2 separate regions of the Homo sapiens genome follow, and region 1 is linked to region 2. The links come from fine-mapping of genetic effects on gene expression. Tissue or cell type: whole blood. Region 2 holds a variant in brackets; the other region holds the start of a gene. All regions are shown on one strand. Distances are between the middles of the regions.

What was found.
Region 1: TNFRSF9 starts here. The variant in region 2 is fine-mapped to the expression of TNFRSF9 in whole blood (INTERVAL, PIP above 0.99).

Annotation. Positions count from the first base shown.
Region 1 is chr1:7,937,649-7,951,220 of GRCh38, reverse strand. It overlaps TNFRSF9 (TNF receptor superfamily member 9), which reads left to right and starts at 10,382. Exons shown (of 8, transcript NM_001561.6): 1 at 10,382-10,437; 2 at 11,143-11,326; 3 at 12,393-12,500; 4 at 12,891-13,028; 5 at 13,465-13,531. The coding sequence starts at 11,227. RefSeq lists a silencer at 8,539-8,678.
Region 2 is chr1:7,965,683-7,979,922 of GRCh38, reverse strand. It overlaps PARK7 (Parkinsonism associated deglycase), which reads right to left. Exons shown (of 7, transcript NM_007262.5): 4 at 10,519-10,578; 5 at 8,960-9,029; 6 at 2,185-2,271. Among named protein-coding and RNA genes, the nearest start is that of PARK7, 11 kb to the right of the region's middle. The variant C/T (reference allele first, on the strand shown) is at 9,127.

The sequences.
Region 1 (13,572 bases), 28 kb after region 2:
AAGCAATTCTTTGCCCCAGCCTCCTGAGTAGCTGGGATTACAGGCGCCCACCACCATGCCCGGCTAATTTTTGTATTTTTGGTAGAGACAAGGTTTCACCATGTTGGCCAGGCTGGTCTTGAACTCCTGACCTCATGATCCACCTGCCTCAGCCTCCCAAAGTGCTGGGATTACAGGCGTGAGCCACCGAACCCGGCCTTTATCAGCCTTTCAATGTATTACCCATCCTGGAAAACCCAGTTACACTGCCAATCCCTCCAGGAAACTTTCTCTATTCCCGTAGCACTTTGCCCTCCTATTATAGAATCTGTACGGCTGTGTGGCCTTAGTTATTTGTGTAACCTCTTCCTTCCACTCAAGGCTGGGAAAACTGTTGGGATGGCACTTTATCTATATATGCCATACAAGACAATAAAACTCACTCCACAATTATTTATGGAGGGCTTGTTGTGTGTTCTCAGGAGTGCTCTGGGGTGCCAGGGATGCAGCAGTGAACAGTGTCCCCTCTCATGGAGCTTATGTTCCATGGGGAAACGACAGACAGTAAACAAAAGCACAAATAAATAGCATGCCAGGTGGTGGTATGTACTATGAAGGAAAACAAAGGAGGGAGAGAAGATGGAGAATAATGGTGGGGGGAGGGTGCTCGTTTAGACACTGGTCAAAGAATGCTGTTTTCTGAGGAGAAAACCCAAATAAGATGAGGGAGTGGCCGGGTGCAGTGGCTCCCACCTGTAATCCCAGCACTTTGAGAGGCCGAGGTGTGCGGATCACCTGAGGTCAGGAGTTCCAGACCAGCCTGGCCAACAAGGTGAAACCCCATCTCTACTAAAAATACAAAAATTAGCCGGGCATGATGGCAGGTGCCTGTAATCCCAGCTACTCGGGAGGCTGAGGTGGGAGAATCGCTTGAACCCAGGAGGCGGAGGTTGCAATGAGCCGAGATGGTGCCACTGCACTCCAGCCTGGGCGACAGAGCAAGACTCCATCTCAAAAATAAATAAAAATTTAAAAATTGAAAACAAGTCAGGCTAGAGGGGAGTGGTAGGATGCAAAACAGGAGAAGTAAATGGGTTAGAAAATGTGCAGATTTGCATTAGACATTCGATAAATGCTTGTTGAGTTAAATTTACTGAATTGATAAGGGACAGAGAGTAATCTAATGATAATAATAATGAAACTTGGAAATTGCTTGAGGTTGAGTGCAACAGACCCTATAGGCATATATATGGAGTAGTTATAACTTACACACAGGGACAGTTGGAACTCTTATTTTGTGTGGTGATACTTATTTAGTATGGTGATACTTAACTGAAGAAAAAAAATCTTATGAAAACTAATGGTTTATCCAACAATCTTCCATTATAATGGAAACACAGAAGAACAGGAGACGGATTTTGTGGAGAACGACTTGTGAGTGGAATTATTTGGTAGAAAATGCTGATCACCATTAAAAAGCTCAGAAGGAAACAAAATCCATCTCCTGGTGTTGCCTTGCTTTTGATTTGTTGAATAAGGACACTAGAATGTTAATTGACAGTAGTTGAGATGAATTTGTATATTACTTAATTTTAATAGTACTTTCCTTCCCAAGGGTTAAGGTGAACGCTAGGGACGGGGAGCTAGTACCCCACAGCCAGAAGCTGGCCTTCGGTACAAAGTTATGTTACTTCAGGATAATGTTGCCTCTTGGGGTGATACTGCTTTGATCACAGTTGTCACCTGCACCCCAAAGACTAGTTTTCCCTTTAACGGCATGTAGCAACTATCTCTCGCCATCCGAATTTAAAAATAAAGAGCCCGTGTTTACTTAATGGTTTTTGATTACGTGCTCTTATTTTAAGCTAGTCTAACTTCCTCCAAAAATTGACTACTATGAGGCTGTCAATTCTGCTCTTCATCACATTTCTCAAAGTTTAAATTGATCGTCAGTTTCTTGGTAGTCATTCATGTAGACGAGCTCTGATGTGGTTTCCAACTCAGCTCTTAAACCACGGAATTGACAGTCTTACCCTTGGTTGCTGAGTCAACACATCTTTTTACTAATTCACAGGAATGTGCCATTACAGCTAGCTCCTATGTTAGTCATACCTCTTGGCCAGATGTTAAGGTAGCTTTGGAATGAGACAGCGTCCAATTCCATCCCTGGTGTCTCCATTCCTTAAATGTGGCAGTATGGTGTGGTGGGAGAGCCTGTTCTCGCTCTCTGAGTCCAGCCTGTCTGGATTTAAGCCCAGCTCTGTCCCATGCTAGCTAAGTGATCTTGAACAAATGAGTTACCCCTCATGCCTCATGTTCCCCATCTATAAAACAGGGATCACAGAACCTGTGTACTTCACAGGGTCACTATGAGAATTAAATGAATGAATATAGGTAAAGCTAGAACACTGGCCTGGAGTAAACCCTCAAATGCTGCCCTTAATCCTTGTCTCAGGAATTGAACTCCCTTGGCTTCTGTTTCTTCACATTAGAATAGTAACAATAATTCTTACCTCATGGAGTTCCTGCATTGCAGATGTTATGCTCAACACTTTTTTTGTGTGCATCTGTGAGACAGAGTCTCACTCTGTTGCCCAGGCTAAGGGGCAGTGGTGTGATCTCGGCTCACTGTAACCTCCACTTCCCAGGTTCAAGTGATTCTCCCACCTCAGCCTCCCAAGCAGCTGGGACTACAGGCACACGCCACCATGCCCAGCTAATTTTGGTATTTTTAGTAGAGACGGGATTTCACCATGTTGGCCAGGCTGGTCTCAAATGCCTGACCTCAGGTGATCCGCCCACCTCGGCCTCCTAAAGTGCTGGGATTACAGGGATGAGCCACCGCACCCGGCCTATGCTCAACACTTTAAATATTTTATTTAGCCTCTTCAGAAGGAACAAAATCTGTCTTCTGAGACTAAATAAAACATTTAAAGTGTTTAGCATAACATCTGCAATGCAGGAAGCCACCCATAAGTATTAGCTCTTGTTATTAGAAAACATTTATTTAGTGGTAGTCGCAATCTGTTTAAATTCAGCGTTGAAGGGACCAGAGGAATGGACCACAGAATGTGATACACCATAAACATGTGCCATCTTGGTGAGGATGGTGAGGGACAGAAATGACATAGAGTTTTTGCCTTAAGATACAATGACAGCATCTGGAGAAATAATCAAAGTGAAGCTTGCTCTTGGAGTAAGAGCAAGTTCCCAGAGCTCAAACTGTTTAAGCGCATGAGCGACAGCAAGGAGACTTCATACAGGGGTTGTGACCCTGAGGTCCACAGATGCTCAAAGGTGCACAGATAAAAATCAGGGAGTCTGTGAACTTAGATTTAAATTACATCTTTAGTTTCACTAACCTCTAATGGAAATCTAAACCTAACATTTCTTCCCATTTGGAATATAGTAATTCACAAAGCATAGCTGAAGGAACAGTACTCATGGCTTGGGACCAATAGTACTGAAAGTCATCTTCATATCACATTACAGTTCTTGCAGATATCCCAGAATACCATTTTGATTCATGATTAATTTGAAATTATGCCAGATACATGTTAAGTCCATATATTAGTGCATCACAAATTGGCTTTTAAAATATTTGGCAGGGACATTTCAATTCAGTTGGTTTCCTTTGTAATCCTTTGTAATATATTTTATGAATTACGAATCCTATTCTGAGGGCTCCACAAGCATAGGACCCACAAGCGAATGGGGCCTTGGGCACAGGCAGGTTAAGAGTCTGGTTAAGAGCATGGGCTCTGCAGCCAGACAGCCGAGTTTCTAATCCTTTCTCGGCTCCTTACTAGCCAGGTGACACCAGGCAGGCTACCTGGCTTCTCTGTGCCCTTGTTTCCTCACCTGTGAAACAGGGACAAAGGCTGTCCTAAGGTATAATTGTGGGAACTTCTGTAAATACATAGAACAGTGCCTTGCGCATAGTAAGCCCTCGGCCAGTGTCAGCCGTGATCAGAAAAGCATTTTACATGAGACCTGAGAAAGGACAATGACAGCTCAGGTTGGGGTCTGCATGCCAGAATGATTTCCCCAGGAAGAGAGTGAAATTAAAACATTAGGTCATGAAGAGACAGGCAGACCGCAGGACTGGAGTGAACAAATCCATGTATTTATTTGTTCATTTGATAAAGGTTTATTGACTACCAACTGTGTGTCTCTCAGCGCTGTCTCTAACACTTTTGGGGCCTGGAGCAAGTATAGAAATGGGGCCCACACACCATGTCTGAATATTTAAAAGTGGCAAATCAAGCGCAAGGAGAATATTCTACTTCACAGAGAAGTCTTCAAAGTAACTAAATAACAAATTATTTTTATGTAACAAAGTTGGCAAAGATGACTGAGTTTAACTAACATTACAAATGTGTAGATGTTTTCTGATGACCTGAAAATGTTTAAATTAGTGGTAAATAAAGGCATACAGGGCCGGGCATGGTGACTCACGCCTGTAAGCCCAGCACTTTGGGAGGCCGAGGCAGGCAGATCACCTGAGTTCAGGAGTTTGAGACCATCCTGGCCAATGCGGTGAAACCCCGTCTCTACTAAAAATACAAAAATTAGCCGGGTGTGGTGGCACACACCTGCAGTCCCAGCTACTTGGGAGGCTGAGTGGGGAGAATCGCTTGAACCCAGGAGGCAGAGGTTGCAGTGAGCCGAGATCACACCACTGCACTCCAGCCTGGGTGACACAGCGAGACTTCGTCTCAAAAAAAAAAAAAGACACACATAGTTCATAAATAATTGTATTTTTATCTAGAAAATTTATTTTTTTGCTTTCATTTCATTTGTTACAATAGATAATTTCGCATAATTTGTGTTTGGACAGTAATGACTTAAAGGATTAAGAAATAAAATATAATTGTACTTAACATATACAGCATTTGTATGTATTTAATATAATGTGTGAATTTGAGTATGTAAAATTTTAAATTTGTTTTTACATTCGTTTTTTCATTTTTCTAAAAGTTCCAAAAGTATTAGAATTAAAAACAAATTATAGTGGATAAATATCAAATATTTAAAACTTATTTTTATTAAAGAACTGAGATTTTTAATCTTTTGAAATTTAAATTGTTTTAAATATTTTTATAAAAATTGAAATTGTCATTCTGGGTCTCAGTCCTAGGTGATTCTAGTAAAGAATTAATGCTGCAGTTCTTATTCTACATATTACATATGTGCATATTCAAGAATAATATGAATTGTTTAATATTACAAAGTCTTCCTCAGACTTTGTGCATAACTGCTGTGAATTCCATGGCAATATACAAGAACTTCCAAAACCACCAAGTGGGCCATAAATTGGATCAAGCAAGTGGATAACCAGCCTGAGCAACATGGCAAAACCCCTTTCTACAAAAAAATATAAAACTTAGCTGGGCAAGGTGGTGCGCACCTGTAGTCCCAGTTACTCGGGAGGCTGAGGCAGAAGAATCCCTTGAACCCTGGAGGCAGAAGCTGCAGTGAGCCAAGATTGCACCACTGCACTACAGCCTGGGTGACAGAGTGAGACCCTGTCTCAAAAAAAAAAAAAAAAAGGATACTTGGGACTGTAGGGAAATACCACTGTCTGTGATATTCTTGCATAATAATAGATTATACAAGAATCTGTTACACCCTTGGTATCTGAGATGGATTTGACAAATCTACTTGCCTTTTGTCTGCCTGGTACTTCTATGGCTCACACCCTCCCTGCCGTTCTTGGAGGCAACAGCACAGCTCACAACTCTCACAGCACGGTGTCACCCTCAAATGGAGTTTCAAGGACATGGATCCAGGGATGTGGGGGAGTCTTCACCCAGGCCTGGCAGTGTGGGTCCAGAGAGCAGATGGAGCCGAGTTAATGCATCCCTATGCCAGCACCGTGCGCCAGACACCCAGTCACAGACGCAGCTCTGTGTTCATTGTGTTTGTGTGTTTGTGTCTCTGCTCTGGACAGAACATACTTAACAGCGTATTTGGATTGATGAACAATTTCTAAATATTTGGACACATGGTAAGCAGGCCTCTGTTTGTACTCTTGTCCTGGGGACTGCACAGTGTTGGGGGTGGTCTGAAGTTGGAGACAACTATTGATAAGCCTTAGCATATGAGTGGATGCCACCTGGAGAAAGGGCAGAACAAGGAGGAAAGGTGAGCAAAGTCGATGGCTGCTGACACCCGCCTCTCCTTATGATTCGTACTTCCTTCTCCTTACTCTGCCTCCTTCCTCTTTGATTTCCTGCTCATTTTCTTTGTTCCAAGTTTAAAAACAATTTACTCCTTCCCAGGCCTCAGAACACCTACTGACATCACAAGCACCAGGTATGTCTAATAGTGACTACTAGTTTGGGTGTTTGGAGTAGGGGTGGCGACACTGAATCTTGAAAGAATAGATCTTTCAGGCAGAAAACAAGTGTAAACAGTGAATATCCCACGGAAGAGATTCCCTCTAAGATGCGCCCTGGAAGGGCGGAAGAATATTTTATAGGAAGCTTATTTTGAGGGCTTTCTCTTTCTAAATGTCTCCTTTATCCTGTTTAGAATTGTTGGGCCTTCATGCTATTTAGCCTCAAAGTATTTAGCTGCTTGAGATATTCAAGATTAGACCTATAGTCAATCAAAATGAAATAAAATCTATTTCTTGGTTTATTTATTTATTTATTTTTTTTTTATTTTATTTATTTATTTATTTTTTTGAGATGGAGTCTCGCCCTGTCGCCCAGGCTGGAGTGCAGTGGCACGATCTGGGCTCACTGCAAGCTCCGTGTCCCGGGTTCACGCCATTCTCCTGCCTCAGCCTCCAGAGTAGCTGGGACTACAGGCACCTGCCACAACGCCTTGCTAATTTTTTTTTGTATTTTTAGTAGAGATGGGGTTTCACCATGTTAGCCAGGATGGTCTCGATCTCCTGACCTTGTGATCCTCCCACCTCAGCCTCCCAAAGTGCTGGGATTATAGGCATGAGCCACTGCACCCGGCCTATTTCTTGGTTTAGAATGAGATGCTTAGGATGTGATGAAACAGATTATTAATACTGCTTAGGATGGATGAAACATATTATTAATATTATTAATACTGCTAAAGTGTTGCTGTCTTGTCGGGGTCATCTCTGATTTAGTTTGAGATGGTTTTATGGAATAGAAAAAGCTTTTGTTGCATTTGAAAGATTACAGGGCTACAATGGATAAAGCAATATGATACATGTTATAAAGCAAATGAAAATTATACCAAAAGAGTATTACACCTTTGGCTAGCTTAGATAGTATGTATATCTGGTTAACTATATAATTTGACTTAGCTTACTACGATGATTTTATACCACACAAAAATGCATGCAGTAACATGAATTCTTTTTTTTTTTTTTTTTGAGACAGTCTAGTTTTGTTGCTCAGGCTGGAGTGCACAGGTGCAAACATGGCTGACTGCAACCTCGACCTCCCAGGCTCAAGCAATCCTCCCATCCCAGCCTCCCAAGTAGTTAGAACCACAGGCACATGCCACCACACCCAGCTAATTTTTGTATTTTTTGTAGAGACAGGGTCTGGGCATCTTGTCCAGGTCATCTTGAACTCTTGGGCTCAAGCGATCCTCCTGCCTCAGCCTCCCTAAGTGCTGAGATTACAGGTGTGAGCCACTGTTCCCAGCCATGAATTTTTTAAACGCCTGAGTAAAGTTGAGCATAGCCTTCAGTAGCAGAATTCTGAAGTGGTTGACTTTGTTTAACTGTGGGCTGGCAAAACTAATGTTGAGACTCTTTTAGCTCAGTAAAGACTCTTATGTTACTGGCATAAAAGCCTGAAATAGTGAGCTAATTACTGTGCTGGGAAACTAAATATGTCACTTTCAGAGGAAGTAATGTCTCTGCCTACAGAATGTCCAAAACGTAGACTAGTGAGTAGCATTTAGTTAAATGAAATATGGCCCAGTTAAATGTCACACTGCAATGTTAAACAGAGTACCACATGTAAACAAGGAGATTACTTGGTTAGATGGTGACTTTCAAAGTGTTAGGAGGGGATCAGCAGTCCGATTTTTATGGTGTGACACTCTCACATTCAGCCAATTTCTGCCAAAGTGGGGCAAGGAGGGATCCCACAGATGTCACAGGTAAGATAACTCTCAGATGACCGTCAGTATTTGGGAACACATTTTGCAGGCAGCTCATGCGTTTTTCTCCTTTTCTGTCATGACTTGCCCTGTGGTGGCTCTACTGATGGTCAGTGTGGGAGGCAGGGAAGGAACATTTCAAACCAGTAAGTCTGATCATAGCAATTCCTACTTTCTTGAGAACTATGTGCCAAGCATTGAGCTAAGTATTTCATGCTCATCGTCTCATTTAATCCTCACTCACGAGGAAGATGTATGGTGTCACTGCACCTGTAAGATGTGCTTGCAAAAACAGAGTTAGGGAGGTTGAGAAATTTGCTCAAGATTACACAACTGAGGCAGGAGAATGGGGAACATGAGGCGTGAGAGAGCAAAGGGAATAAAAATCACTGGGAACCGGTAACCCCCCTCACCCCCGAGAGTGGCCAGGGAGAGAGAGGCTGCCTGAGGGAAGGAAGCTCGGCAGGACCCGCTGCAGACCCAGGGCCAAGGGAAGTCCCGCGGGAGGAAACGCGGGCGCGGTGGGGCTGGCTCCAGGCACGCGGGCCAAGGGCGGGAGGGTCGGACACGAAGCCACAAGGCTCCTTTCCTTCCTCCTCCTTCCCGTCTGCCTTCTTCTGCTTCTGCGGCCTGATCTCCGAGTCCCTCTGCCTGCAGGCGGCGGCAGAACGTCCGCATCTGTCCGCATCTCAGCGCTGTCCCCCAACCGAGTCGCGCCGCGTTTTCCTCTTCTGTCGGGAGAGCTCGTGCTGGGAACCGCGGGGCAGGAGGACGGCCCAAGCTACTCTCGATGTCCTTCCCCAGCCCACGCCTGCCCCAGCCACAGTTCCCCTGGTTTTCCTGAGGTTCTCCAGCTGCTCAATGATGGGCAGGTTCATCTACAGCCTGGAGCAGCCGCCTCCTCCTCCTCCTCCTCCTCCTCCTCCTCCTCCAGAAACACCCCTTTTTCCTTCTCCTCATTCTTCCTTCTCATTCTTTCTCCTCCTCACTCTTCCTTCTCCTCATTCTTCCGTCTCATTCTTTCTCCTCCTCATTCTTCCTTCTCCTCTTCCTCTTCCCCTTCTCTTTCTGTTCTTTTCTTCTTCCTCCTCCTCCTCCTTTTCTCTTTATTTTTCTCCTCCTCCTCCTCTTCTCCCTCTTCTTTCTCCTTATACTCCTCCTCTCCTCTTACTGTACTTTTTTTTCCTTCTGCTTTCTCTGCCCTCCTCTTCCTCTTCTTCTTCTTCTTCTTCTTTTTTTTTTTTTTTTTGTGGCTGGAGTGCAGTGGCGCAATCTCGGCTCACTGCAACCTCTACTTCCCAGGTTCAAGCGATTCTCCTGCCTCAGCCTCAGTAGCTGGGATTAAAGGGGTCCACCGCCACCATTCCCTGCTAATTTTTGTAATTTTAGTAGAGACAGGTTTTTGCCATGTTGGACAGTCTAGTGTCAAACTCCTGACCTCAGATGATCCATCCACCTCGGCCTCCCAAGTGTTGGGATTACAGGCATGAGTCACCGCGCCTGGTCTCTTTCTCCTTTTTTTTTTTTTAAAGAAAAATTGAAATCATGGTTTTCTAAAAATCCCTCCTAGCTCTCAGCTTCACCGAACCACGTCCTGGTCATTGACTTGCCGTGTGACTGCTGTGCTTCCCCTGTTTCCATTTCCCTCCATTTCTCCCTCCTTCCTCCCTCTGTCACCCATGCCCGGAGGAGCACGATAAGGGACCAGGCCGACCTGGGTTCCAACCCTGCCTGCTCCCTGTCCTGTTGACGCTCTAATTCCACTTGCAGCCCCACTTTCCTCATTTGCATAGTGTTCTCCCAGTAACAACAGCAGTCATACCAAGTTCTAGGGTTCTTTCGAGGATAGTGTGTATTCACCGCAGTGCATCTCTGATGCCTGGCACATCGGCTGTGCTCAAGTAATGGCAGCTATTGCATTACAGTGACTATGGAGTTAGGGGACCGCATATGGCAAAATGCTGATCACTGTTTTGAATTTGGTTTCATTCCTCTAATCTCAAATCCAGTGTTTTAAGGACATGCTAAATGCTTTGTCCTGGAGAGCTATCTTAAGGGACAAAATCGTTTTCCCAGCGTCATCTGTGACACATCCTGACAGTAGAGAGCTGCTTCCAAGAAGCAATTTGAAGTGCCATTATCAGGCAGGGACGGGGGCTCTAGGGGATTTCGGGGTCAGCAGATATGAAATGAATGATTTCATAGGGCTGTCACAGAGCTGTGGTGGGAATTTCCCATGAGACCCCGCCCCTGGCTGAGTCACCGCACTCCTGTGTTTGACCTGAAGTCCTCTCGAGCTGCAGAAGCCTGAAGACCAAGGAGTGGAAAGTTCTCCGGCAGCCCTGAGATCTCAAGGTCTGTCCATCTGGGGGAGTGGGTGGGGGCACTGAGAAGGGGTGAGATTGGAACTTTTGCTCCCTTTGCCCATTTCTAGACTTTTTCTCCTAATATGTAATAACTTCTCTTCAATAGCCCTTTAAATAAACATCAATAACTTAGCCTGAAGAGTTTTTCACTCCTTAGTTTTGTTACCATACAAACTTCACATCTCAAAACATGTCTCTGTTTAAGAAAATGTGTTAGTGAGTTGAACAGGGAGGTCTTTCCACATGTTAGTAGTTAGGTGTTCAGCTAAAGGGGGAAGAGTGATTATGTGATAGCTTCTTCTTGAACTGAATTGTCTGATGCCCCTGACAGATTCTCTTTGTAAGGAGTTTATTTCAGGGGCAATAAGTAATTGGCATTATTGCTGGTTGGTACTGCAAAGTACCTATGAAAGTCCCCAAAAGTTCTTGCTATTGTTATTTCTGCATTTTGGCAGAACATGATGGAAAATGCACCCTCAAACTTTGGCAAACCGGCACAAAGCTGTGTGTTTAATCACGCCTGCCTTGTCCTAGTGGTTTCTATGAATCTGCTACTTTTCCGTAATATTGCATCATTAATTGTTCCTGAAAAACCCTGAGTTATCCTCTTATAGAATTGTATAAGTAATGATTGCAATATAGATAATTTTGAAAGGAGAAACCACCTTTCCTTGGAAATGTTTATCTTTTGCAGAGTGACATTTGTGAGACCAGCTAATTTGATTAAAATTCTCTTGGAATCAGCTTTGCTAGTATCATACCTGTGCCAGATTTCATCATGGGAAACAGCTGTTACAACATAGTAGCCACTCTGTTGCTGGTCCTCAACTTTGAGAGGACAAGATCATTGCAGGATCCTTGTAGTAACTGCCCAGCTGGTGAGTACCCAGTTATCATGTGCATTTGATCTGCTCTGTTGGAAGTATGGTTCAGTTAGTCTAGTAGTCAGGGCTAACGAGCTCCCTTTTAAGGAAAGGAAAATGAAAATTCATTCATTTACAAATGTTTATTGGATGCTACAACCTAGCTGTGTGAACACAGCAAAGTCATTCAACCTCTTGTGCCTTGACTTTCTCATCTGGGGATAATAAGAGAACCTGTTTTATAGGATGGCTGGGAGGATCAAATGAAGGGCTTAGAACAGTGCATGGCACAAGGCAAGACTTCAATAAATGTTAGTTTTGTGTGTAGGGCTTTGTGCTCCGACTGGGGGCATAGCAGCGAGTAAGCGCGTAGTAAAGGGCTTAACAGAGTGGGGACGGTCAGTCGCATTTAAATTTTAGTGTAGGACATTGATGTCCTCCTGGATCCAGTCATATTCATCTCCTACATCAATCAAGATAATCATTTTGTTTTATTCAATAGATAAAGTATTTTCTTTCTGTTGATTTATTTGTTACAATATCTGGTTTTTTTGTTTTTTTTGTGTGTGTATGTTTTTTTTTTTTTTTTTGAGACACAGTCTCACTCTGTCGCCCAGGCTGGAGTGCAGTGGCACGATCTCAGCTCACTGCAACCTTGGCCTCCCAGGTTCAAGCAATTCTCCTGCCTCAGCCTCCCGAGTAGCTGGGATTACAGGTGTGCACCACTGCGCCTGGCTAATTTTTGTATTTTTAGTAGAGACAGGATTTCACCATGTTGGCCAAGCTGGTCTTGAACTGCTGACCTCAGGTGATCTGCCCGCTTCGGCCTCCCAAAGTGCTGTGATTACAGGCGTGAGCCACTGCACCTGGCCTGTATTTTGTTATTTCTAATTCTGTGATTACACAAAGAATAATCTTGCAAATGTATTGTTTTAGGAAGTCAATCAAACTAATGTCCACCACTGTGGCATCTAGAAAACTCATCATTCTTTTATAATCTTATTTTATTGTAAACTTCGGAATGCCTTGGGTGACGATTGCCCATTGTCAAACGTGTACCACTATTGTCTGCCTTTCTTAGGTACATTCTGTGATAATAACAGGAATCAGATTTGCAGTCCCTGTCCTCCAAATAGTTTCTCCAGCGCAGGTGGACAAAGGACCTGTGACATATGCAGGCAGTGTAAAGGTATGAGTTCAAAGATATTTTCTTCTTCTAGAAGATAGTTGGGAAGATAAGCTTTTCTTTCCCATTTACTAACTGCTCTCTTTTGAAAATCTCAAGTGTCAAAGACTGATTCTTCTGCCAACCAGCAGGTCTAGGACAATAATATCCAGTGACAGCAATTATTTGTGGACTGAGCTTTCTAAATATTAGAGGAAACATTCATTTGACAAGAGAGAAGTTTTTACTTACCTAAATGTAAAAATGTCTTTATGGAGATTTAAAAGTAAACTTTAAAATTACTGGGAACACTATAAGTAGAGTGAGCATGATTTTTACTGCAGAGCATAAATTCGCTTCCTGGATTTGGAGGTCAAGTGTAATAAAATGTTGGGGGCTGGGGGGACTTTGTAGGTGTTTTCAGGACCAGGAAGGAGTGTTCCTCCACCAGCAATGCAGAGTGTGACTGCACTCCAGGGTTTCACTGCCTGGGGGCAGGATGCAGCATGTGTGAACAGGATTGTAAACAAGGTCAAGAACTGACAAAAAAAGGTACGTTTGCGTTTCTTTGATCTAGTGTAGTTTTGTGACATAGACAAACTTAGCTTTGATCTTGATCCTTTGAAAATAAACAAACAGATTTGTAGAACCTTAAAGTAACAAGGGAGTATATGATATATCATATTTTAATTAATAAAATATTTCAATTAATAAAATATTTCCGTTATTTCTTCATAAATGGAAATAATTTGAAATCAGAACATTTGTTAATTGCCAGAACCATTAATCTTCACATGTTCCAGACATATACAATACTTTATGTACAATTAAAATAAAAACTAGCCATCTTAGGGTGTTGTTTCAAGAATTATTGAACAATTTGTGCAGATTGCATTATGGTAATGACTTATATTAAGTTCATCACAGGAAAAGTTACAAAATGATGAAAATGCTTCCCTTTTATTATTGCTTTCATTTTTAATACAAGGTTGTAAAGACTGTTGCTTTGGGACATTTAACGATCAGAAACGTGGCATCTGTCGACCCTGGACAAAGTACGTATAATTTCCTTTAGTTTATGGAATAAAGAATCTGG
Region 2 (14,240 bases):
GGCCTCCCCAAGTGCTGGGATTACAGGCGTGAGTCACTGCATCCAGCAAAAAGTACCAATTTTCAAACAGATCGTTTTAATGATAACATAGTATCTTTCTAGCAACTAAAATAAAACCATGAGCGGGGCACAGTGGCTCACATCTGTAATCCTAGTACTTTGGGAGGCCAAGCCAGAAGGATCGCTTGAGGCCAGGAGTTCAAGACCAGACTGTGCAATATGGTTAGACCCTGTCTCTACAAAAAAATTTAAAAATTAGCCAAGTGTGGTGGCTCATACCCATAGTTCCAGCTACTCGGGAGGCTGAGGTGAGAGGATTGCCTGATCCCAAGAGGTGGAGGTTACAATGAACTGAGATCACACCACTGCACTCCTGCCTGGGTGACAGAGCAAGCCTCTGTCTCAAATACATTAAATAAATAAACAAACCATGGATTTTCAGGAAAACACTGCTCTGGATCAAATGTAACTGTATGTAGAATGTACAACAGCAAGAGAGAACCCTCATGTAAACTGTGGACTCTGGATGATGATGTGTCAATGTGGGTACAGATTCTGGTGCAGGATGTTGATAGTAGGGGAGGCTATGCATGGCCAGGGGCGGGGGCCTGGGGAGTGGCGAGTGGGTCAAGGTAGACGGGAATTTGGCTGTGAACCTAAAACTGCTCTAAAAAACTAAAGTTTAGTAATTAAAAAACATGCAGTATAATGAAAAGTGCATCACTTTTAAAGTGGAGCTCAGATATGCTCACAGCGGCATTCAAGGATGATCATTATGGCATGGTTTACAAGGGCAAAAGCAGAAAACCACCTTCATGCCCACCCCCAGGAGAAGGTTACATACAGCATGGCACATTCCAACACTGGACTAGCAGCTGTACTTAACAAGGATGAAGCAAATCTAAATCTACATGTGCTGTTAAAAGATAACATAAGATATTAACATTAAGTTAAAAAAAGCAAGCTGCAGAACAATACATTTAGTAGATCTCATTTTAGTTAAAATAAAAAGGATAATGAGTATGTGATAGATAAAATTCTACAGGTACACAAGAAACTTTTTTTTTTTTTTTTTTTTGATAGGGTCTTGCTTTGTCCTCCAGGCTGGAGTTCAGTGGCGAGATCACAGCTCACCATAGCTTTGACCTCCCAGGCTTAAAGCGATCATCCCACCTCAGCCTCCTGAGCAGCTGCAACTACCAGTGTGCATCACCATGCCTGGCTAATGTTTTTTGTATTTTTAGTAGAGATGGAGTTTAACCATGTTGCCCAGGCTGGTCTCGAACTCGGGGCTCAAGCGATCCACCCGCCTCAGCCTCCCAAAGTACTGGGATTACAGGCGGAAGCCACTGTGCCCAGTCTACAAGAAACTTGTGGTGGCACATGCCTGTAATCCCAGCTACTCGGGAGGCTGAGACAGGAGAGTCCCTTGAACCCGGGAGGCGGAGGTTGCAGTGAGCTGAGATCACACCACTGCATTCCAGCCTGGGCAACAGAGCGAGAGACTCCATCTCAAAAAAAAAAAAAAAACCACACACAGGCATATGGGCCAGGCGCGGTGGCTAACACCTGTAATCCCAGCACTCTGGGAGGCTGAGGCAGGCAGATCACAAGGTCAAGAGTTCGAGACTGGGCGCGGTGGCTCATGCCTGTAATCCCAGCACTTTCAGAGGCTGAGGCGGGTGGATCACAAGGTCAGAAGTTCAAGACCAGCATGACCAACATGGAGAAACCCCATCTCTACTAAAAAATACAAAAATTAGCCAGGCGTGGTGGAGCACACCTGTGATCCCAGCTACTCAGGAGGCTGAGGCAGAAGAATCACTTGAACCCGGGAGGCGGAAGTTGCAGTGAGCAGAGAACGCACCATGGCACTCCAGCCTGGGCAACAGAGCGAGACTCTGTCTCAAAAAAAAAAAAAAAAAAAAAAAAAAAAAGAGTTTGAGACCAGCCTGACCAACATGGTGAAACTCCATCTCTACTAAAAATACAAAAATTAGCTGGGTGTGATGGCATGCGCCTGTAATCCCAGCTACTCAGGAGGCTGAGAGAGAAGAATCGCTTGAACCCGGGAGGCAGGGATTGCAGTAAGCCAAGATCACGCCACTGCACTCCAGCCTGGGCGATGGAGCGAGACTCCATCTCAAAAAACAAACAAACAAACAAAAACAAGCATATACTTACCTCCATTCATCATTTTGTCTTTAGCAAGAGGGTGTGTTGTAACTTTACTTCCAAAACCTATTTCATGAGCCAACAGAGCAGTAGGACCTAAGAATAAAAATAAAAAGATCTAAGTGCAGATATAGAAAAGCCCATGTTTAAAAAATCGCAATAGTGCCTGGCACAGTGGCTCATGCCTGTAATCCCAGCAATTGGGGAGGCCTAGGTAGAAAAATTGCTTGAGCCCAGGAATTCAACATCAGCCTGGGCAACACAGACCCCTTCTCTAACAACAACAAAAACTGCAACAGCAAAGTATTCTTCAAAATCAAGAGGCTCTTACCAAACATACAGCTACGATTCTGAAATGAAACACTTCCTAGTATGAGAGATAAAGTATGTTTATAACAAACGATTTGCTGAGCACATCTGGCAAAAGCACAGAAACTCAAAATACTTCAATAACCATTTACTCAAGAAGATTTACCTTGATACCAGCAGAGCATACACAGATAAACAAAATGTGCTCACCTCTCTCACCTTCCCCATCCCCAGAACAGGGACCACATATACCAGGAGTCCAAAGGAGGGGGAGGATCACTGGGGCGGGCTCAACTTCTTACCTCACTCTTAGTAAAAGGAAAGATTTAGTTACATGCTAAAGGCAACTGGTACTCTCTGAACTTCTGGATTTTATTGCTCTTTTGTAATCTTATTTTCTACTTGAAAATGGGAAATTAGGCCGGGCACGGTGGCTCATGCCTGTATTCCCAGCACTTTGGGAGGCCAAGGCGGCTGGATCATGAGGTCAGGAGATCAAGACCATCCTGGCTAACACGCTGGAACCCTGTCTCTACTAAAAATACAAAAAATTAGCTGTGCGTGGTGGCGGGCGCCTGTAGTCCCAGCTACTCGGGAGGCTGAGGCAGGAGAATGGGGTGAACCCGGGAGGCAGAGCTTTCAGTGAGCCAAGATCGTGCCACTGCACTCCAGCCTGGGCGACAGAGCGAGACTCTGTCTCAAAATAAATAAAAAATAAATAAATAAAATGGGAAATTAACACTCGTTCATCCACCTATCCACCCAAGTATGCCAGGTGGTAGGATTAAAATGGACAGCACACTGTCCTTGAAGGAGATAGCCTGTGAAGTGCCTGGAAGTGTGAGATATAAAGGCACTAGCATCACGTGATGAAAGCTACTTAAGCAAAGAACCACATGGAAGTGTCAGTTGATGAAGTCTTTCCAAATTGGCAGGTCCTAACTTGAGATTTTTATTTAAATGTATTCACTGAAAACGGCCAACTTCAGGGAGGGTCACAAGCATATTGCGTATGTAATGGTCCTAAATAAGGATTAAAAACAAAGATTTTATATACCTTTCATTGTTATTTCATCTTAAAGCTTTTTACAAAGTATTCATTCTACCTTTTTCCTCTAAGCCACACATATAAACATTCTTTCTAAGGCCTCACATGACACTTAGAAGGATACGTTTCAGAACAGCACCTTGATCTTGGAAACACTTAAGGTGCCCTGGATGGCTAAGATCCTGTGGCACAGTTTGTACACTTTTAGTGTCAGCAAACCTGAGAGGTCTTGGTCTTACTGTCCTTTCATTTTTCAACAAGACTCCAAGGAAGGAATTATATAATATACCCACAAGCTACTCAGACCGTAGCTGTTACAAACAGGAAGATCACACAAATACTACCTAATTACATAAGCTTTCTGCCTAATATCAGCTGTCAGTTTCAGACCAAGTCCTGATTTATAGCTCTTAAATCAAAAGCCTCAAATGTCTCTTCTCCACGTTATTTTTACACACAAGACAGCTATGTATGGTAGCAAATTTTAGAAGTCCGTAAGAATTGAATAATTATCAATTTTTATTTGAATGGATTTATAAATTGTTTTTAATTTTTATTTGGTAAGAATTTAAGAAGAAATTCCTACATCATCTTGCATTTTAAAGTAAACTTTAATAGATGATAGCACAGTGAGGAAAGTGATCGGTGAACGAGAATTTTTAGGCTGCTCCCTTCAAGGTGGTAATAAAATCACTGCTACGATGTGAATAAATTTATGTTACAGTTGGATTCAGGAATTTACTGATGTCTTTCATACTTATCAGGTAAGCTCATAATCACTGCTTTCTGGGGCGTCAGAACCCTATTTGGAATACTGGAGAAGAGACGTTTCACTCTCCCAGGACCTGGGATTCTGATGGATGAAAACGCTCTGTACTCTGCACTACAGTGCAGAGGGCGCAGCTGACCATGTCCCCTTCTGCAGCCAACAGCACCACCCTGTGGTAACATGCAAAATGACCACCTCTGCCAACTCCCCAGCTCCTCCAGGTGGCCAAGACCTTGCTTCCAGAGGCCTCATTCCTAGACCTGGGCATCTCAGCTGACAACTGTCCACTCCTCCAACTCCACACTTCCTCCCCCTCCCCTACTCAAAGTAAATATCATTTAATTTTCTTCTCAACATAGACTCCCTTCCAATTTGCGTTCCTCATTCACTCAATATTAAGGACTAGGCTAATATTCTTTGTGTTCAAAATGTTTCCAATCCCTAACTGCAACACTTCAGAATAATCTTGGCTGGGTGCGGTGGCTCACGCCTGTAATCCTAGCACTTTGGGAGGCCAAGGTGGGCGGATCACGAGATCAGGAGTTCGAGACCAGCCTGGCTAACATGGTGAAACCCCGTCTCTACCAAAAATACAAAAATTAGCTGGGCATGGTGGCAGGTGCCTGTAATTCTAGCTACTCGGGAGCCTGAGGCAGGAGAATCGCTTGAACCTGGGAGGTGGAGGTTGCAGTGAGCCGAAATTGCACCACTGCACTCCAGCTTGGGCAACAAGAGCAAAGCTCCCATTTCAACAAAAAAAAAAAAAAAAAAGAATCTTATTTTTCTGTTTGCCAATTTAAAAGATCCAAATCTCTTCCATCACTCCTCTGTTCCATTCCCATAACCCTCATCTCAATTAGCTCAGCTCATCATCACATTTTTTCCTATTTCTGGTGTAGTGCCCACAACAGTGGTGCAGGATATTCAATGGTATAAACACACTGCTAGTGTGTTTTCTATTTTTACTGTTTTTTATATAATTTTTTTTTTTTTGAGATGGAGTCTCACTCTGTCGCCCAGGCTGGAGAGCAGTGGCGCAATCTCGGCTCACTGCAAGCTCTGCCCCCCAGGTTCACACCATTCTCCTGCCTCAGCCTCCCGAGTAGCTGGGACTACAGGCACCCGCCACCACGCCTGGCTAATTTTTTGTATTTTTAGGAGAGACAGGGTTTCACCGTGTTAGCCAGGATGGTCTCGATCTCCTGACCTTGTGATCCGCACGCCTCGGCCTCCCAAAGTGCTGGGATTACAGGTGTGAGCCACCGCCCTTGGCCTATTTTTACTTTTTTTTTTTAAGAGACCAAGTCTTGCTCTGTCCTTTAGGCTCAAGTGCAGTGGTGTGATCACCACATCTCAATGTAACCTCAAATTCCTGGGCTCAAAGTGATCCTCCCACCTCAGCCTCCTGAGTAGCTGGGACTACAAGTGTGCACCACCACACCAGGCTGATTTTTTAAAATATTTTTTTGTAGAGGTCGGTGGGGGGGTCTCACTATGTTGCCCAGGCTGGTCTTGAACTCCTGGGTTCAAGTGATCCTCCCACCTCAGTCTCCCAAAGTGCTAGGATTACAGCTATGAGCCACCACAGCCAGCCTGTTTATTTTTTAATGTTGATTTAAAGTACTATAAGGCCCATGCTTCTTAGCATGGCATTCCATCTAGCCTCAGCACAAAACAGTAAGCCAAATGTGGTTGATTTTTTTTTTTTTTTTTTGAAACGAAGTCTTGCTCTGTCGCTCAGGCTGGAGTGCAGTGGCACGATCTCGGCTCACTGCAATCTCCGCCTCCCGGGTTCAAGCGATTCTCCTGCCTCAGCCTCCCAAGTAGCTAGGACGACAGGCATGCGCCACCATGCCCTGCTAATTTTTGTTATTTTTATTTTTATTATTTTATTTTATTTATTTTTTGAGACGGAGTTTCACTCTTGTTGCCCAGGCTGGAGTGCAATGGCGCAATCTTGGCTCACTGCAACCTCCACTTCCCAGGTTCAAGCGATTCTCCTGCCTCAGCCTCCCAAGCAGCTGGGATTACAGGCACGCGCCACCACGCCTGGCTAATTTCTGTATTTTTAGTAGAGATGGGGTTTCACCATGGTGGCCAGGCTGGTTTCGAACTCCTGACCTTAAGTGATTTTGCTACTTTTGTGGCACAGGACAAACTGACATGTGGTTTTTACTTTCAGCAGAATCATAAGGAAACAAACTCAGCCCAAACTCTTTCTTCCTTTGGTCAAAGAATCTAGGACTGAGGCTTGCTTCACAGCAGCAGAGCCAAAGAAAACCAAACTCAAGGATCTGTGACTTTCTCTCCAAAGAGGGGAGCAGCTGCTTGGGCTGCAGTGACTGCAGTGCCCTTTGGCAGAGATAATTACCTGAGCCTCAGGGCAGGTCAAAAGGCTAGTGGTGACTCTTGTAGTAAGCCCACGTACAAGACCTGCCAGGGTGGTCAACCTCTGTGGTTCTTCCCAGCCCCTAATGCCACGGTTCTCAAACATTTAGGTCTTAGAATCCCTTTAGCTTTTATGTGGGTTATATCTATGAACATCTGCCATATTAAAAATTATTACTTTTTTTTGAGACAGTCTTGCTGTGTCACCCAGGCTGGAGTGCAGTGGCGTAATCGCGGCTCACTGCAACCTCCGCCGCCCGGGTTCAATAGATTCTCCTGCCTCAGCCTCCTGATAGCTGGGATTACAGGAATGCATCACCATACCCAGCTAACTGCCCAGCTAACTTTTGTATTTTTAGTAGAGACGGGGTTTCACCATGTTAGCCAGGCTGGTTTCGAACTCCTGACCTCAAGTGATCCTCCCACCTCAGCCTCCCGAGTAGCTGGGATTACAGGCGTGCACCACCATGCCCAGCTAACTTTTGTATTTTTAGTAGAAACGGGATTTCACCACGTTTGCCAGGCTGGTTTTGAACTCCTGACCTCAAACGATCTGCCCACCTCAGCTTCCCAAAGTGCTGAGATTACAGGCATGCGCCACTGTGCCACGCCAATTACTTTTAATGGCAAAAACCACAATTACTTTTACATCAACCTAATAAAACTGGGAAATTTTTAAAACACAATAATAAATTCTCAGATGATGGTATCATCCTACTCTGATGTCACTCCTGAAAGACTGAGAAGAAAAAAGGCGAATAACATTTTGTTTGAAAGACATGGTGTCACTCTGCTGCCCAGGCTGGAGTGCAATCATAGCTCACTGCAGCCTCTAACTCTTGCCTTCAAGCGATCCTCCCATCTCAGCCTCCTGAGTAGCTGGGACTACATGCATGCAGTACTGTGCTTGGCTAATTTTTTGTTTGTTTGTTTGTTGAGATGGGGGTCTGGCTATGTTGCCAAGGTTAGTCTCAAACTCCTGGCTTTCAAGAGATCCTTCTGCCTTGGCCTCCCAAAATGCTGAGATTACAGGCATGAGCCACCACACCTGGCCCCTCAGTAGCATCTGCTTTGACCTTGCAAGTGCACCAAAAGAACATTGAGAACCACTGATACTCGAATGTATCAAGTCCCCAGGACCTCTGGCCCATAACTTCTTTTGAAAAGCCTACTGTATTGAACAAAATAGCAACAGCAACATGTTTTGATGTTGATGTTTACCAAACCATCCACTCATTCATTCGTTTATTCATTCACTCTTCTGACAAATATTTATTTTATTTTATTTTATTTTTTTTTTGAGACGAAGTCTCGCTCGTGTCCCCCAGGCTGGAGTGCAACGGCACAATCTCGGCTCACTGCAACCTCCGCCTCCCGGGTTCAAGCGATTCTCCTGCCTCAGCCTCCCGAGTAGCTGGGATTACAGGCGCCCGCCACCACGCCTGGCTAATTTCTGTATTTTTAGTAGAGATGGGGTTTCACCATGGTGGCCAGGCTGGTCTTGAACTCCTGACCTCAGGTGATCTGCCCGCCTCAGCCTCCCAAAGTGCTGGGATTACAGGCGTGAGCCACTGCGCCCGGCCCTGACAAATATTTAATGAAGACCTATACAACAAGGAAGGTGCTGGCAAAAATTACAGCATGGGAAAAAACCAAAATGGCAGAACATCATCTGATAGGAAAGCAACAAGAATGGATCTTAAAATGGTTATGAGAAAATAAAATATTACTAAGGTACAAAGAGAAGAGGACATCTGCGAAGCACCAAATGTCCTTGTTCTAAATTATGTGGCAGATAATGCGGTGCCCAAGATCACTCGGTACTGAGACAATCAGAAACGCCCGAGAAGCCAGCGGAAAGCACCATGGGGGCTTCTGAATTTGCAGGGCAAGCACAGGACAGAGCTGCTGTGTTGATGTTTGATGGATTTTGCTGATTGTGTGCTGGCACAAAGACTTTCTGGCACAGAGACTTGCTGTAACAAGCTGTTTACTGAATTCCAGAGGGCCTTATTTTCCTCCGAGGTCAACCAAACACGGAAAACACTAAGTTTCACAGCATGTAGACCAAAGGCATGGAGAGGCAGAAAACAGAACAATTGTCCTCATCTCTGAAATGACACCAACTTCATGCCACCCAAACTAAATACACCAACACAGATGCCCTGCATGCTTTATGAAGGGGAAGAGCTATTTGGAATCAAACCATCGAATGAAAGGCTACCCCACCCACCAATGACGCTGCAACACAGGCTGCCCCTGCACGTCACCTGCACAGATGGCGGCTATCAGGCCCTTCCGGTTTTCCTGCTCCTTCAGTATCTCCTTCACAGCAGCAGACTAGTGAAAAGAAAACCAAAAATACATAAAGTTATCATTAAGCCACTAACCAATCACTCACTAGGAAACTTTGGAAGAATTTAATTTTAGTTTAAAC[C/T]ACAAGCTCTCTGACCTATTTTCCAACAATATTTCTAAATCATTGGTATAAAAATGATCAAAATGTGTCTATATTATATTCTTAAACCCAAGCAAGGCATTTCTCATAAGAGAAACGCACTCTTCCACATTTAAAGATCAGAAGAAGCAATTTGACCCTTGCCATTTTGTACTCCAGGGAGAAAGAAATGGGAGGGAATGTGGTGTTTTGGGTGTTTTCAGATGGCAGAGAGAGGAACAGAATCTAGCAGGAAAAGATCCCTTGTGTCTGACACAACCCACTTCTTACTTCTGGCAGCCCCAACTCTGCCTGCAGGTGTGCCCCTCACCCTGGCCTCTGACTCCTCACATACGACTTAAAATGAGGAACAATGGTCTCTGCTGATGGCATTTGCCATTCCTGCTGGCAGCCCTAGCCCCACAGCTTCCCCCAGTTAAGACTTTGAGTAGACAATTTGCCCTTCTCAAAACACAAAATCTGATCATTCTTCTGCTGGTGGAAAAAAACCAAATCATCTTACTTTGGACTGTATTCATCGACATCTGTTCATAACGGTCCCACCAATTCAGCTTACTTCCATGGCAACATTTTTTTTTTCTGATAAGACAGGTTCTTGCTTTGTTGCCCAGGCTAGAATGCAGTGGTGCATTCACAGCTCACTGCAGCCTCAAATCCCTGGCCTCAAGTCATCCTCCCACCATAGCCTCCCGAGTAGCTGGGACTACAAGTGTGCACCACCGTGCCCAGCTAATTAAAAGAAAATTTTTTGTAGAGATGGCGTCTCGATGTGTTACTTAGGCTGGTCTCAAACTCCTGGCCTCAAGCAATCCTCCTGTCTCAGCCTCCCAAACCACTGGGATTATAGACGTTGAGCCACTGCACCTGACCTCCATAGAAAATATTAAAAATGTTTTCTTGAGGTCGGGAGTGGTGGCTCACGCCTATAATTCCAGCACTTTGGGAGGCCGAGGTGGGCGGATCACGAGGTCAGGAGTTTGAGACCAGACTGGCCAACATGGTGAAACCCCGTCTCTAATAAAAATATAAAAATTAGCAGGGCATGGGGGTGCATGCCTGCAATCCCAGCTACTCAGAGGCTGAGGCAGGAGAACTGCTTGAACCCAGGAGGCGGAGATTGCAGTGAGCCGAGATTGTGCCACTGCACTCCAGCCTGGGCCACAGAGCAAGACTCTGTCTCAAAAAAAAAAAAAAGTTTGAGTTAATGCTATAACACCATTTTGTTAATTTTAGTTGTTTCTATTTTTTTTTCACAGCCTCCTCCCGAAATATTTGAATAATAACAAAATTAACAGAACATAAGCAGATGCTGAAATTCTTTAGTTTTTCCCCCCCCCCAGCTTTATTGAGGTATAATTGAGTAGAATTTTTTACCTCAGATAAATTCTGTGCGCCCAGATTACCTCCTGGTAGAACCACCACATCATATGGTCCCTGTAACAGTTTAAAACATAAAGAAAACAAAAACATTTCATTTCAACTGTGCATTAAATTGACAGTCCAATAATACTTTCCTATTTTAAATGTGGGAAGTACAGGAGATAGCCTATCTGCCAATAGAACAGTTAAATAAATTAAGGTGTATCCACATGACGGAATGGTGTTTTAACTAGCAAAAAATGCAGAAAACCTGTATGTAGTGACATGCAAGGATGTCCACGCTGCAGAGTAGCAGGGGTAGTATAATCTCCTTCCTGTAAAAGACAAGGATATATGTATTTGTGTGTAGATGTATGCGTGTATGTGTACAATCACCACAAGCACCCCACCCCACATATTCTGTATACAGGTAGTCACAGACAAAGGAAGACACTCTAGTTGCTAATGGGAGTAGTGTGGGATGGGGCAGAGGGAGAATGAGAACAGGACATTTAACATTTTGACTTTATATGTGTCTATATTGTTTGAATTATTGTTCAACAAGAATGTACATGAACAACTTAAAAAATTAATAGAAAAACAGGCTGGGCACACTGGCTCATGTCTGTAATCCCAGCACTTTGGGAGGCCAAGGCAGGAAGATTACCTGAGCTCAGGAGTTCGAGACCAGCCTGGCCAACATGGCAAAACCCCCATTTCTACTAAAAATATGAAAATTAGCTGGGTGTGGTGGTGCACACCTGTGGTCCCATCTACTTGGGGGGTTGAGGCAGGAGAATCGCTTGAACCTAGGAGGCAGAGGCTGCAGTGAGCTGAGGCTGCACCACCGCACTCTAGCCTGGGCAACAGAGCAAGACTCTGTCTAAAAAAACAAATAAAATTAATAGAGAAACAAATTTTAAGTAAAAGGCACAAAAAATTTTTCTTAACTTTATGAAAAATGTAACGGGGGGAGAATTTTAGTATCCCCCCCAAAAAATCCTAGAAATCAAATTAATTTCAAACTTCCTGAAATTACAAAACGGAAATTGTTTTAACAATACTTTAGGACTTTTTATTTATTTATTTATTTTTCTTTTCTTTTTTTTTTTTTTTTGAGACAGAGTCTTGCTCTGTCACCCAGGTTAGAGTGCAGTGATCTCAGCTCACTGCAACTTCCGTCTCCCGGATTCAAGCGATTCTCCTGCCTCAGCCTCCCAAGCAACTGGGATTACAGGTACCCACCACTGTGCCCGGCTAATCTGTGTATTTTTAGTAAAGATGGGGTTTCACCCTCTTGACCAGGCTGGTCTCAAACTCCTGACCTCGTGATACACCCATCTCGGCCTCCCAAAGTGCTGGGATTACAGGCGTGAACCACTGTGGCCGGCCAACAATACTTTAGTACTTTAAAAAGTGGTTAAAAAAAATCTAGTCATTAAACAAATTACAAAATAAAAATGTATTATGTATTTAGTGCAACCTATAAAATTTTTTTAGAGAGAAGCCCTCACCTCTGTCACCCAGGCTAGAGTGCAGTGATGCAATCGTGGCTCACTACAGCCTTGAACTCCTGGGCTCAAGCAACTCTCCCACTTCAGCCTCTGCAGGAGCTAGGACTACAGGCATGCACCACCACAGCCAGCTAATTTTTTTTATTTTTGTAGAGACAGGGTCTCGCTTCATTGCCCAGGCTAGTCTCAAAACTCCTGGGCTCAGGTAATCCTCCTGCCTCAGCCTCACAAAGTGCTAGGATTTCAGGTGTGAACCACTATGGCTGGCTTAGAATCACTTTTAAGACCATAAACATCCTACCGTTGATTCAAAACCAAGCAAAGCTCAAAACTCAAAAGAAAATGTGTAAAGTATAGAATTTATTTTACTCCTTTTAGAATCTGCACTGAAAAATAAAAACACACAAAAGGTAACCACTTCCTTAAAAAACTACAGTAAATGGAACTACCATATGGTCCAGCAATCCCACTACTTGGCATGTATCCAATGGAAAGGAAATCAGTATACTGAAGAGACACCTGCACTCCCTTGTTTACTACACCAACAGTCACACTAGCCAACATACGAAATCAACCTAGGTCCAACAACAGATGAATGCATAAAGAAAATGTGGCATTTATACACAATGGGATACTATCCAGCCATAAAAAAGAATGAAATCTTGTCATTTGTGGCTACAAGAATGGAACTAGAGAACATTATATTAAGTGAAAGAAGCCAGGAATAGCAAATTAAACACTCCATGTTCTCACTCATATGTGAAAGCTAAAAAAAAATTGATCACATAGAAGCATAATGTAGGACAGAGGATACTAGAGGCTGGGGAGGATAGGAGAAAGTGGGGATAGGGAGAGATTTGTTAAAAGATACAAAATTATAGCTAGATAGGAGGAATAGGTTCTGGTGTTCTATACCCCCGTAGAATGACTATAGTTAACAATCATATATAGTTTCAAATAGCAAGGAGGATATTGAACGTTCCCAACACAAAGAAATGTTTGAGATGATGGATATGCTAATTACTCTGATCCGATCACTATATATTATGCATGGAAACATCACAAATCCCATGAATATGTACACTTATTATCTGTCGATTGAAAATAAAGGTAACCACTGTTTTAAAATGCCCAGACATCATATGACAAAAACACAAACAGAGATGAAAAAAAGTATTATTATTATTTTTGAGACAGGGTCTCGCTCTGTCACCCAGGCTGAAGGGCAATGGCACAATCACAGTTCACTGCTGTCTCAAATTCCTGGGCTCAAGCAACCGTCTAGGCTCAAGTGATCCTCTTGCCTCAGCCTCTTAAGTAGCTAGAACTACAGGCATGCACCACCACACCTGGCTTTTACAAATTTTTAATTTAAAGAGAAACGGTCTCGCTATGTTGCCCAGGCTGGTCTCAAACTCCTGGTCCCAAGTGATCCTCCCACTTTGGCCTCCAAAAGTGCTGGGATTACAGGTGAGCCACTGCACTTGGCCTGGAATACTTACTTCTGCTTGTCATTTTTAATTTGTTTCAACAAATCACATGTAAATACCAACAGTCTAATTTTCTACAATCCAGTAATGAAAAATCTAAACTTATTAGAAAGGATTAAACTTTTTCCTATGTATCTGAGGACAGCTCGGCCCAGGGAACCGCACTCCAGGTTCCTCAGCAGTGTGCAACCAGCCATCTGTGAGCCGACTCTGCCTCCTTTCCTGCCATGACCCTGCTGTCAGAGGGTACAGTCCACACTCCTGTCACGCTGACCGCACGACGGAGTGTGCAAAAGCGCCTGTGGGGGAGCATGTTTCTGAGGAAAGGGATGCTAGCTTCCAAAAGTGTCCATCGTCCTTAAAGGTAAGAGCCATAATTCCAACGATACTGAAAAAACAACACAACTACAGTGGAACTCTGAAAGTATCTTTAGAAAAAATAATGGCCGGGCATGGCACATGCCTGTAGTCCGAGCTACGTGGGGGGTTGAGGTGGGAGGATTGCTTGAACCTGGGAGGTTGAGGCTGCAGTGAGCTGTGACTGCACCACTGGACTCCAGCCTAGGGGAGAGAGTGGGACCATTCCTCTAAACAAAAATAATAATAATAAAAAATGGAAAATGTGGCAGTTGATTTATGTCAGGTAAAAATGTGTAATAGGAGGCAAGGATGCCTGTGTAAGCCAGAAAAATACTGATGGGAAAACAATGCAGCCATCCATCTAAGCACCAAC